Homo sapiens: one gene and its partners. The protein of the gene in region 2 purifies or fractionates together with the protein of the main gene of each other region. This does not show direct contact. Each region holds a gene or a part of one and is shown on either strand. Other genes may lie near its edges.

The links.
Region 1: the proteins of XXYLT1 (region 2) and PRMT3 purify together in Homo sapiens (affinity purification with mass spectrometry; one large-scale study listed by BioGRID and IntAct). This does not show direct contact.
Region 3: the proteins of XXYLT1 (region 2) and PDCD2L purify together in Homo sapiens (co-immunoprecipitation; 2 studies listed by BioGRID and IntAct, with this or other methods). This does not show direct contact.
Region 4: the proteins of XXYLT1 (region 2) and SLC39A11 purify together in Homo sapiens (co-immunoprecipitation; one large-scale study listed by IntAct). This does not show direct contact.

The regions. Positions count from the first base shown.
Region 1 is NC_000011.10:20,506,200-20,509,771, reverse strand, and holds the end of PRMT3 (protein arginine N-methyltransferase 3), read right to left. Parts: intron 1,469-3,572; coding exon 1,359-1,468; 3' UTR 434-1,358; downstream 1-433. UniProt on the Homo sapiens protein: Protein-arginine N-methyltransferase that catalyzes both the monomethylation and asymmetric dimethylation of the guanidino nitrogens of arginine residues in target proteins, and therefore falls into the group of type I methyltransferases.
Region 2 is NC_000003.12:195,069,970-195,072,229, forward strand, and holds part of XXYLT1 (xyloside xylosyltransferase 1), read right to left. Parts: intron 143-2,260; coding exon 1-142. UniProt on the Homo sapiens protein: Alpha-1,3-xylosyltransferase, which elongates the O-linked xylose-glucose disaccharide attached to EGF-like repeats in the extracellular domain of target proteins by catalyzing the addition of the second xylose.
Region 3 is NC_000019.10:34,410,863-34,414,434, reverse strand, and holds part of PDCD2L (programmed cell death protein 2-like), read right to left. Parts: intron 699-3,572; coding exon 588-698; intron 1-587. UniProt on the Homo sapiens protein: Over-expression suppresses AP1, CREB, NFAT, and NF-kB transcriptional activation, and delays cell cycle progression at S phase.
Region 4 is NC_000017.11:73,086,186-73,089,757, reverse strand, and holds part of SLC39A11 (zinc transporter ZIP11), read left to right. Parts: exon of another isoform or gene 1-44; intron 45-982; 5' UTR 983-993; coding exon 994-1,101; intron 1,102-3,572. UniProt on the Homo sapiens protein: Zinc importer that regulates cytosolic zinc concentrations either via zinc influx from the extracellular compartment or efflux from intracellular organelles such as Golgi apparatus. May transport copper ions as well.

The DNA of each region.
Region 1 (3,572 bases), on a different chromosome or scaffold from region 2:
GGAGTCTCCCTATGTTGCCCAGGCTGGCCTTGAACTCCTGACCTTAAACAATCCTCCTGCCTTGGCCTCCCAAAGTGTTGTGATTATAAGCATGAACCACCATGCCTGGCCCTGTTTTTTACTTTTAATTAATTAACTTTTCTAGAGACAGAGTCTTTCTCTGTTACCCAGGCTGGAGTGCAGTGGCACGATCTTGACTTACTGTAGTTTCCAACTCCTGGACTCAAGCAATCTGCTCACCACAGCTTCCCAAGTAGTTAGGACTACAGGCATGCACCACTATGCCTGGCTAATTTTTTTAAAAGAATTTTTTGTACAGACCTGTGTTGCCTAGGCTGCTCTCAAACTCCTGGGCTTAAGTGATCTTCCTGCCTTGGCCTCCCAAATGCTGGGATTATAGGTATGAGCTACCATACCCTGTTGAAATATTTTATAATGTTGTTTGATATATTTTATTGAAAACTTTTATAATATCAATATTTTTAAAATATTTTATAAGTTGATACATTTTATTAAAATTTTATTCTACATTTCAAATTGAATCAGTAATTGTAAATGACAACTTTATAGACTGCTTAGTAACAGTTACATGTTTAACCTTTGCACATAAATCTGGTTTGAAAAAGATAATACGTTAGTAAATAAGTACATATTTATCCCAATCTTTAAAAACTTTCATGAAACCTAGGATAAATGTATTGAAATTAGATTTCCTGGGCAGTACTAGAAATCTATAAGGCTAAGGAATAGTCACAAAGAGGGAAGAAACTACAAAATGAGAACCCTAAGTATGCTAGATAATCAACTAGGCTGTCTGCATATATGATTTGTATATGAAGGCTGAAGCTCTTTTCCATATTTTAGTTTTTTTATACAAATCTTTATTACATCCTGATTTTCTAGCAAATACAATTAAAAACTCCTCCTCAGAGGAGTCCATAATAAAATGTGTAGTACCTGTGTTACTAGTTTAATAAAATATCCAAATAACTAACCAATTTGTTTAAAATTTATAGTAAGAAACTTATTAAAAACAAAAGACTATCTCTCTTCCAAATATAGGCCAATGTAAATGATTTTCAATATAGATAAACTCAATGTGGGAGTTACATTTGGTTAAATCTGGTGGAGCAAACGTCTAAGAAAATGATTACGTGGCAGACCATGAGGATCAGCTGATTCTCTTCCTCAGCTGAACTATGTCAGATTCCCACAATGAGAACTTCTCTCTTATTGAGGAGGCTCATTAGGAAAGGGTCCATCATCCATCCATCTGCTCACATAAAACCAGCTCCCTCCTGCTGACCCACTCTACCCCCACATTAAAAACTACAAGGTAGTGTGCTTTTATGGCTGTTTCACTGGAGACCATAAGTTTGAGTTGAATTATTCAACGTGAGGGTCACGGTGAGAGAACGTGGATCTTTCTTATTCTTGTGAACTGTGACCTTTCCTTTCAAGGCTTCACCTGTAAAACAAAGGCAAAAATTGTTAAGAATTCAAGGAATACAGTGTAGCAGAAAAGTAAACAATGTATAACTAGCACTTCTTTTTATTGTGATGTTTTCCCACTTTTTAAACTTTATTTAAGGTTAATATTCTTTTTTTTTTTTTTTTTTTTTAAGATGGAGTCTCACTCTGTCACCCAGGCTGGAGTGCGGTGGTGTGATCTCAGCTCACTGCATTCTCCCAGGCTGGAGTGCACTGGTGCAAGCTTGGCTCACTGCAACCTCCGCCTCCTGGGTTCAAGAGATTTTCCTGCCTCAGCTTCCCGAATAGCTGGGACTACAGGCGCATGCCACCATGCCCAGCTAATTTTTTATTTTTAGTAGAGATGGGGTTTCACCATGTTGGCCAGGCTGGTCTCGAACTCCTGACCTCAGGTGATCCACCCGCCTCAGCCTCCCAAAGTGCTGGGAATACAGGAATGAGCCATTGTGCCCAGCCAATATTCATTTTTTAGAGCAGCATTATGTTTCATTAATTTTTTTTTTAAGACAGTCTCTCTCTGTTGCCCAGGCTAGAGTGCAGTGGTACAATCCCAGTTGACTGCAACCTCTGCCTCCCGTGTTCAAGTGATTTCTCCTGCCTCAGCCTCCCAAGTAGCTGGGATTACAGGCATGCGCCACCATGACCTGCTAATTTTGTATTTTTAGTAGAGACAAGGTTTTGCCATTTTGGCCAGGCTGGTCTAGAACTCCTGACCTCAGGTGATGCGCTCACCTACCTCAGCCTCCCAAAGTGCTGGGATTACAGGCGTAAGCCACTGCGCCCAGCCCTGTTTCATTAATTTTTGAATGAAGCGAGAACTAACTACATACCACAGTGTCAAATCCTTGTGAAAGTGAGTAAAACTATTGTGGTCATAAAGGGTCAATGGAAGCATTTTACTGAACTTCTAAATATGAGGCCCTATGGTGGGTTCTGGGCATCTAGAAAAAAGATATGGTCCCTGCCCTCAAAGAGTTTGTGATCAGGGTGAAGAAAAAAGCTATACTAACAATTACACAATAGGCATGTGTCTAAAGTGTGCTGGAGGTGAGCACTGGGGATGGTTGGAAGGCAGTTAAAGGCAAGGTTTCACAAGAATTAATGAATTACCCAATGCCAGGGCTGAAGTCATGGAGAACCAGGCTTAAGGGATGTACATGTAATGGTATTTAAGGAAAACACATACACAGAACCTTCAGGAATGGCATTTTGAGGAACTGAAAATTATAGCTGGGAAAATGTAGAGGCACATGACAAAGCCATTGGCCATTGATGCACTGGTGCTGTAAAAGGGAAACAATGTACCCATGTGAAACAGTGAACACACAAAAATTACTTACCTGTGCAAAGGCTGATTTCCTAAATTCTGTAGGTTCCAAATTTTTATCTATGTACTTTTCTAATTATAAATACTTCTCATTTAATTTTTCATTTATTTTAAAGAGCTGTTTAAAAAGTAACAAATTGCTAAGTTGTAGTTGATCACCATTCTTTGCTTAAATAATATTAAGATAACACCAAACAGTGTCAGGAATAGCTTTAGCATCTGCATGGACACAATGAGGCTCCATATAATGACCAAGGAAATCTACATAAAACTATTGAAGTACTGAATGAATATCGTATTTAAAAAAATACAAATTCCCCATATTCAAGGAAAATTATCTGAATGCTTTTCAAGATGGTAGTGAAATAACACAAGTAAAACATAACCACCTGTTATATTTATTTTCAGAATATAAAGATTCCATTACTGATACCTTCTCTACATCTTTGCAAAAAAGGTGAGACTCACAGTTTAACACATAATTAAGGAGTTAAATAATAGAAGAAATAATGTGGCCCAAGGTGCAATCCATTCAACAAAATATAACAATTTTTGTGTACGTATATATGTTAATGTGTATATTTGGCTTTAGCTTTTATATCTGACCTATTCCTCTATATTAAGAAAATGATATAAAACTATCTCATATGACATGTTCACCAATAGTGGACATAATAAAGATTACCAGTCAGATAGTTCTACAAACTTTATGGAGTTCAGGTTAATCATTAGATAATTTATGCTTATATTTATT
Region 2 (2,260 bases):
CAGGCGGCTGTAGAGCGGGGACTGGCGCATGGCCTCCAGGTTCAGCAACATCACCCCGCTGTTGAAGCCCGGCAGCCCCTCGGGGGGCGGGCCCCCAACCCGGGTCTGGGGGTTCTCATGGCGGAACTGCCAGAATGTGTGCCTGTGGAGAGAGAGGACAGAGTTAGTCCGGTGTGCAGGGGAACCAGCCTGCCGGCCTGCTGCCCTGGGTCTTCACAGCCAGCCTGCATGCAAACACTGCCACATTCCGGGGTGCAGAATCCGCATCACTACACCAGCAAGTGGCAGAGCTGGGACCTGAACCCAGGGCTCTGGACCCCAAGCCTCAGATTCTTTCTACCATCCTCTGCTACGTCCTCACCACAGCCAACATTGATATTATTGACTGAGGATGTACCAGGCGCCATACTAGACCGGCTTACTTACTCCCCACACAACCCCAGGGGATGGGTGCTCTGAGATGATACATCATTTCACAGCCAAGAAAACGGACGCACAGAGAGGTCAAGGTATTTGCCCAAAGTCACACACCTAGTAAGCAGCAGACGCAGGGACTAAACCCAGACAATCTGGCTCCAAAGTCCACATTCTTAAGATAGCAGCAATCTAGGTAGAACTTTCCACCCCCTTGTCTTCACCTGTGATCTTGAAAAGGAGAAGGGAGAGAGAAGCAGGGGACACAATCCTGAACAGAGATCTCATCAAGACGCAGGCAGCTGAACCCTGACTGGAACAGAACTGTTTTCTGCTTTAGAACAAGGCTCATTCATTGAGCCCCAAGCCTGGCACTTCAGAAAGGCTGGGCAGGGGCTGGGGGCCTGCGACAGCCCAGGGCACACCATGGGTTAGGGTGAAAGACAGCTGTAGAAGAGCCATGTAGGATGATGTCTACTTTAGAAGGAATGTCACTTCAAGTTCAATTTTTCTCTCAGCAGATTTAGAAACCAATCTAGGTTCATAGTTCAGGGAGTGTTAGCCTCTTCTAGGTCCTCTACCCAAATGCTTCCATCTGGAGGGGAGAAGAAAGACCTAGACACCTCCCTGTGAGGGCCAGGGTTAAAGCGCTGCACTGTCCTCCAGCCTCTTTAATAGCTAAGCCTCATGTGTGCTGCAAGGGGTGTGCAGGTGGAGGGGAGAGGCGTCCAAGCCCACACCCACAGAGGAGGGGCCACAGCAATCGTGCCGGTGACCTGGAGGAAGGAGGACCATCAGGAGGCCCACTGTGGCAGGGACAGGCGTGGGAGTGGGTCCTCACGGGGAGGACACATCGTGGCAGAACCAGCTCTGCCTCCCAGCCTGGAGATGCTGCCCCACCGGCCCCCGCAGAGAGACTTCCCCACCCAAACCCAGGATAGGATCTGCGTGATGAAGCAGAAGGTACGGGGGAATAAAACCGGAGACCCTGCCCAGGGTGGCCCTGAGGGGCCACTTCTCAGCACCAGCACATTGCTCCGCTTCTGGGAACGGAGGAACCTTCCTCAAGGTCTCACGTATCACAGAGAGTGCCAAGAGTCTGATCCTGGCGAGGGGGAAGCATTCCCTCCGGACATTCTTACAGGGGAATCCACAGGGCCACTGCTTGTGTTCTGCTGTGAGTGGAACCGAGCTCTGGTGCCTGCCTGGTGGTAACAGCCTTGGCAAAAATAAGCTTCTCAAGCAAACTGAGATGCTGTCATCTTGCCACAAAAGTCTGCGGTGATAGGGTCACACAGGGTTGGGATGCAGTGTGGCAGCTGTGTGTTCATTTTACCCTATTTCTTCCCAGTGGTTCATTTCAGGACCAGGTTATAAAGCAGCTAAAATTCTACCAGGCAGACCAGGGCACCATGACATCAGAGAGGAGGGACCCTCTGACTAGGGGCAGTGGGTGCTTTACCACCAAGGAGCTCGATTTACCCTTCGAGGGGTGGGAACGAAGCGTTTACCGAGGTGGAGCAGAGACCCAAAGGGAGGGAGGGCACGAGAAGCAGGGAGGCAGGACCTGTGGCCGCCGAGGTCCTGGACTACCTCATGCTCCACGGAGCCCACGTGTCCATCTTTCTTTACTGTCCAGAGTACCCAGGAGGGAGAGGACTCACCCAGCTGGGGGTGTGGCCCGTGCAGTCTCTTGTGTCCACAGGACCTCACAGGGCACCAGCACAGCAGGGCCACAGGAAAGATCACAGGGCTGATGAGGAACGATGGAAAGGCAGGCGTGGGGTGGACCGTGCAGCTGTCGACACCGGGTGGAAGCAGGGGGCAGGACACTGAGGACACGATG
Region 3 (3,572 bases), on a different chromosome or scaffold from region 2:
GAGGCTGAGGTGGGCAGATTACGTGAGGCCAGCAGTTCGAGACCAGTCTGGCCAACATGGTGAAACCCCATCTCTACTAAAATACAAAAAAATCAGCTGGGCAGGGTGGCGGGCACCTGTAATCCCAGCTACTTGGGAGGCTGAGGCAGGAGAATGGCTTAAACCCAAGAGGTGGAGGTTGCATTGAGCCAAGATCACGCCACTACACTCCAGCCTGGGCGACAGAGCGCGACTCCCTCTCAAAGAAAAAAAAAAATTAAATAATAATAATAATAAAGGCTATGAGAACATGGACTTCATCTGTGCCGTTTCTTGCTATATCTGCAGCACCTACAAATACCAGCAACTGGCATGCAGAATAGACTTCGTAAGTATTTGTTAGACAAGTGAGTGCACTTTACCTTACTGAATCCTCCTACACATCCTATAAAGTAGGTATTAGGTCCTATAAAGCAGGTATTAGGTTCTCTCTTGGTTTGGGGAATACTGTAGGTTTTGCTTTTCTCATATTTTCCTGTGTTTTCCAAACTAATATGTATTCCTTTATAATCAAGGAAAACAATAAAAGGAACTGTGCCTTTTTTTACCTCAAAATCTGCTCCTGACAAGCAGCAATTCGCTTCATGAATTTGTAAAACGTCTGATCTCCACTTTTAATTATGGTCTTCTCATATTTTTCATCACCATCATTAGGAAGGCTAAAAACAGAAGCAGAAAACACTTTTGAATGTCTATATCCAGAAAATTACAGCATTTGCAAGACAAAACAAGATAATTTTCTTTTAAAAAATTTTATCAGGGCAGGCGCAGTGGCTCACGCCTGTAATCTCAGCACTTTGGGAGGCCGAGGCAGGCAGATCACAAGGTCAGGAGATCGAGACCATCCTGGCCAACATGGTGAAACCCCATCTCTACTAAAAAATGCAAAAAATTGGCTGGGCATGGTGGCTTGCGCCTATAGTCCCAGCTACTCAGCAGGCTGAGGCAGAGGAAATCGCTTGAACCCGGGAAGCGGAAGTTGCAGTGAGCCGAGATCGTGCCATGCCACTACACTCCAGCCTGGTGACAGAATGAGACTCCATCTCAAAAAAAAAAAAAAAAAAAAAATCAATCACGCCTTTAATCCCAGCACTTTGGGAGGCCGAGGTGAGCAGATCACCTGAGGTCAGGAGCTTGAAACCAGCCTGGCCAACATCTTGAAACCCCATCTCTAATAAAAGTACAAAAAATTAGCCAGGCGTGGTGGCGGGCGCCTGTAATCCCAGCTCCTTGGGAGGCTGAGGCAGGAGAATCACTTGAACCCAGGAGATGGAGGTTGCAGTGAGCCAAGATTGCGCTATTGCACTCCAGCCTGGGCAAGAAGAGTGAAACTCCGTCTCAAAAAAAAATTTCTCAGGCCAGTGCAGTGGGCTCACGCCTGTAATCCCAGCACTTTGGGAGGCCGAGGCAGGCGGATCACTTGAGCTCAGGAGTTCAAAACCATCCTGGGCAATCTGGCAGAACCTTGTCTCTACAAAAAAATACAAAAATTAGCTGGGCATGGTGGCATGCACCTGTGGTCCCGGCTATTCCAGAGGCAAGGCTGTGGTGAGCCGTGAGCACACCATTGCACTACAGCCTGGATAACAGTGTGAGACCCTGTCTCAAAAAGAAAAAAAAAAAAAAACTGTCAAAGTTAAAAAACTGTAAAACTGTCAAGTAATTTTTTTTTTTTTTTGAGAGGGAGTCTCCCTCTGTCACCCAGGCTGGAGTGCAATGGTGCAATCTTGGCTCACTGCAACCTCCACCTCCTGGGTTCAAGCAATTCTCCTGCCTCAGCCTCCTGAGTAGCTGGGATTGCAAGTGTGCGCCAACACGTCCAGCTAATTTTTGTATTTTTAGTAAAGACAAGGTTTCACCACGTCGGCCAGGCTGGTCTCCAACTCCTGACCTCAAGTGATCCATCTCGGCCTCCCAAAGTGCTGGAATTATAGGAGTGAGCCACCGCACTCAGCCAAAAACTGTCAAGTAAATATTTTTGATATTTAAATTGTGTACATGTAGCTCTGCAGTTCCCTGCCCAACCCTTCTCCCAAGCCATTTTCAACTCTTGAGTAATTATTTACAATTTAAAAAGTCGCAGGGCACAGTGGCTCACACCTGTAATCTCAACACTTTGGAAGGCCGAGGCAGGTGGATCACGAGGTCAAAAGATCGAGACCATCCTGGCCAACATGGTGAAACCCTGTCTCTACTAAAAATACAAAAATTAGCTGGGCATGGTGGTATGCACTTGTAATCCTAGCTATTCAGGAGGCTAAGGGAGGAGAATTGCTTAAACCTGGGAGGTGGAGGTTGCAATGAGCTGAGATTGAGCCACTGTACTCCAGCCTGGCAACAGAGCGAGATTCTGTCTCAAATATATATATTTTCATATATATTTTTTAATATATATATTTTATTATTTATTTTATATATATATATATATATATGTATTTTTCATCTGGGTGCGGTGGCTCACGCCTGCAATCCCAGCACTTTGGGAGGCCAAGGAGAGTGGGTCACTTGAGGTTAGGAGTTTGAGACCAGCCTGGCCAACATGGTGAAGCCCCATCTCTACTAAAAATACAAAAATTAACCGGGTGTGGTGGCGGGTACCTGTAATCCCAGCTACTTGGGAGGCTGAGGCAGGAGGATCATTTGAAACTGGGAGCTGGAGGTTGCAGTGAGCCATTATCACACCGCTGTACTCCAGCCTGGGTGACAAAGTGAGACTCTGTCTCAAAAAAACCAAAAATTTTTTTAATTAGCTGAGTTTGGTGGCACACACCTGTAGTCCCAGCTATGGGGAAAGCTGAGGCCAGAGGATCCCCTGAGGCCAGGAGTTTGAGGCTGCAGTAAACCATGAGCAGGCTGGGCGTGGTGGCTAATACCTGTAATCCCGGCACTTTGGGAGGTCGAGGTGGGCGGATCACGTGGGGCCAGAACTCCAAGAAGAGCCCGGCCAGTATGGCAAAAGCCCATCTCTACTAAAAAGAAAATACAAAAATTAGCTGGGTGAAGTGGCGCACGCCTATGGTCCCAGCTACTCGGGAGGCTGAGACATGAGAGCTGCTTAAGCCGGCGAGGGAGAGGTTGCAGTGAGCCGAGAACGTGCCACTGCACTCCAACCTGGGCAACAGAGCAAGACTGTCTCAAAAAAAAAAAAAAAAGGCCATAACCACACCACACCACTGCAGTTCAGCCTGGGAAACAAAGCAAGATCCCATCTCTAAAAAAAAAAAAAAAAAAAAGAAGAATACTCTAGTCTGAAGAAACCCACCAAAAATAAGCAAATACATAAAAACTTAAGAAATTAAAAAATAAAAAATCCTGCCGGGCGCGGTGGCTCACACCTGTAATCCCGGCACTTTGGGAGGCCAAGGCAGGTGGATCACGAGGTCAAGAGATTGAGACTATCCTGGTCAACATGGTGAAACCCCGTCTCTACTAATAATACAAAAATTAGCTGGGTGTGGTGGCGCGCACCTGTAGTCCCAGCTACTTGGGAGGCTGAGGCAAGAAAATTGCTTGAACCCAGGAAGGGGAGGTTG
Region 4 (3,572 bases), on a different chromosome or scaffold from region 2:
ATTCCTGGGTCCTTTTGCTTGTCCTTGCTGACTGTCCTGTGCAGGTAAGCTGGCCCTTTTCCATCCAGCACATATTTTTCAGGGGTTACAAAGCCCTATTTTACAGGGGTGCCAAATGTGAAAAAGCACCGTCCCCGTCCTCAAGCAACTAAGGCTGTAAAAGATGGAGGCAAAGCCACACTGAGAGAGGACCAAAGCTGCATGCTAGGACAGGGCTGGGGAAGGCCAGAAAAGCCTTGGTCGTGAGGTTGGCATTATGTGGGCTGCAGAGGGTGCTCCGGGTTCTGATGGCTGGAAATGTGCAAGGAAGGTATTCCAGGAGGGAACTGCATGAACAGGGACTTGGAGGCAGGATTGTCTGGGGCTTGTGGAAGGTGCCATAAATAATTCAGTTGAGCTGGAGTTGGGTGCTCGTGCAGGCATGATGGAGAACGGGATTGGAGAGTCGGGGGTTGGTGGGTATCAAAAGTTGGTTGGTGGAGTTTACCCTTTGGCTGGGCAGGTGCGCTGTTGCAGATGTGATGGGGATTAAGATTGGAAGCGTGTTGACATCACCTGAGCTAGTCACCTGTCTTTGGTGGAGGCTGAGTGCGGATGGTGGGCAAGAGACGGTAGAAGAGGCAGATTATGTGGGGGAGGCTGCATCAGACCCTCCTATGCCCCCTTCTTCTGGAATAAACCACATTCTTTGTGCTTCTCTTTGAAACCACTTTTCAATGTTGCAGCCTTTTTTGTGGATTCCCCTGGCATCTCCCTGTGCCTTCTTTCAGATTAAGACGATTTCCAGTTCCTGGGGGACCTGGATAGAGAAGCCTGACCTGTGTGCTGGGTGGCTGAGGGACACAGATGGCGTGGTGGAAGGGTGCATACGGTCAACCTGGAGGGAGGCCAGCTCCCACACAGGGTGTTAGGACCCGTCAGAATATGCGCCTGTCACTGAAACGGACCACCGGTGGCTGACCCTCTCGCTCCTCTTGCACAGCTGTATCCAGCATGCTCCAAGGCCACAGCTCTGTGTTCCAGGCCTTGCTGGGGACCTTCTTCACCTGGGGGATGACAGCAGCTGGGGCAGCTCTCGTGTTCGTATTCTCTAGTGGACAGGTGAGTTGCCTTGCTTTGGTTCTGGATGTTGGTGGGGAGCCCGTTGGTAAAGGGGCACTGTCCCACTCCATGGAGCAGGTTTGTAGACTTTTCAGTGCCCCTGGCCACACCCCCAGGCATTGTGTACTGGGGTTTGTTCGCTGTCTTCTTATTTTCTCACCTTCTCCCTGCCAGGCCGGGAGAACAGATGTCTGCTTGCTGTAGACACCTTCATGCACCATCATCTCCCCTCTTGACCCTTGACAGCCTGACTTGAAGGGAATAGGAAGTGAGAAGCCCAGTTATTGAGGCTTCGTTAGCCCGCTGCCTAATTTCTACCTGCCATGTAATTTCTTTTCTTTTTTCTTTTTTCTTTTTTTTTTTGAGACAGAATCTTGCTCTGTTGCCCAGCCTGGCGTGCAGTGGCAGGATCTCAGCTCTCTGCAACCTCCACCTCCCGGGTTCAAGTGATTCTCCTGCCTCAGCCTCCAGAGTAGCTGGGATTACAGGCATGTGCCACCACGCCTGGCTAATTTTTGTATTTTTAGTAGAGGTGGGATTTCACCACTGGTCTCAAACTCCTGACCTCAGATGATCCACCCACCTCGGCCTCCCACAGTGCTGGGATTGCAGGTGTGAGCCACCGTGCCTGGCCTGCCATGTAATTTCTTTCAGGCCTGGAGCAAGTGGTACTATGCGTGACCGAAGAACATTAGATTTCAGGTGTAACTGTCCTCCCCTGTGGACTTGAGTTGGGTGGGATGGTTGGAAAGACCTTGGGAGAAGAAGGGGCATCTGTTCCCTTTTTTTTCAACCCATCTCCAGGTTGTTTCCTTTCCCCTTGGGATGAATATAGACAGACCCATGTCCCTGGCCCCCTGCAAACTCTTACTTCTTTCTCCTACATCTTCCTTGTATCCTACTCCCAGTGCCCTCACTCACTGTCATGGCCCCACAGCCTATCTCTCCCTCCTCCCACAACCCCATCCTTACACCCCTTCTACACGCTCTACCTATAGTCCCACATACCCACACTTGCACACATACCCATACCCATATGCCCTCCCCACACCTCTGCACAACCCACACTCACCTCATATACCTGAAATTGCATTCTTTTCTCCAACCCAGATCACCCTCAGTCCGCAGCCCTGGAGCCATCCATGGGTATCTTGATGAATGCACAATCCCTGCATCGATCACCTCGGTAGCCTGAGACATTGTAGAAACGGCAAATGAATAAGTGACTTAAGATCTAGTTCAACATGTTGTGAGGGAGATCTGGAAATGAAAACACCTTTAGGAAGTTCACAAGTCAGGCACTCTTGTGTTAGAGACCAGTACAGCAGGCCTTGATTTCAACAATAAAATCCCGACCTCCCTTGCTGCGCTGCACTGCCCCCGGGAGCTGATGGGTTGGAGACTGGAAATCAGAAAACACACAATCCAGAAACATGGTTTATCTGGAACCTAGGTATATAAGATGCCAAGATAAGTCAAATTCACAGAGACACATTGTAGAATGGTGATTGCCAGGGGCCACAGAGGAGGGCAGAAATAAGTTATTCTTGAATGAGTACAGAGTTTCAGGGTTTTTTGTTTTTGTTTGTTTTTTTTTTCTTTAGACAGAGTCTTGCTCTGTCACCCAGGCTGGAGTGCAGTGGCGTGATCTTGGTTCACTGCAACCTCTGCTTCCCAGGTTCAAAAGGTTCTTCTGCCTCAGCCTCCCGAGTAGCTGGGATTACATGCATACACCACCACGCTCAGCTAATTTTTTTTGTAGTTTTAGTAGAGACGGGGTTTCGCTGGTAACCCCATCCGGCCAGGCTGTTTTATTTATTTATTTTTTATTTTTTTTGAGCTAGAGTCTTGCCCTGTCACCCAGGCTGGGGTTCAGTGGCATGATCTCAGCTCACTGCAACCTCCACCTCCTGGGTTCAAGTGATCGTCCCACCTCAGCCTCCCAAGTAGCTGAGACTACGGGTGTGCACCACCATGCCCAGCTAATTTTTGTATTTGTAGTGGAGATGGGGTTTCACTATGTTGCTCAGGCAGGTTTTGAGCTCCTGACCTCAAGTGATCTGCCTGCCTCGGCCTCCCAGACTGCTGGGATTACAGGTGTGCACCATCATGCCCAGCTGAGTTTTAATTTTGTAAGGTGAAAAGTTCTGTAGACCACATGGCTTCTTTCACTTCAAAGAATGTCCATAGAGCTCATCCACGTTATAACATGTGCCAGAATTTCTTTTGTTTTTAAGGCTGAAGACTATTCCATTGTATGTACATACCACATTTTGTTTATCCATTCATCTATGGATAGATAGCAAAAAAAAAAAAATCTGTATTGAAATAGAAGATGCTTATGGAAAAATGCACATTTTATTAGGCTGGTGCATTTTATTAGGTTTGCACCAACCTAATATAAGTATGCAGCTTGATAACTTTCCACAAGTGCTCATGAAACTAGAGCCCAGATCAAGAAACAAAACAGT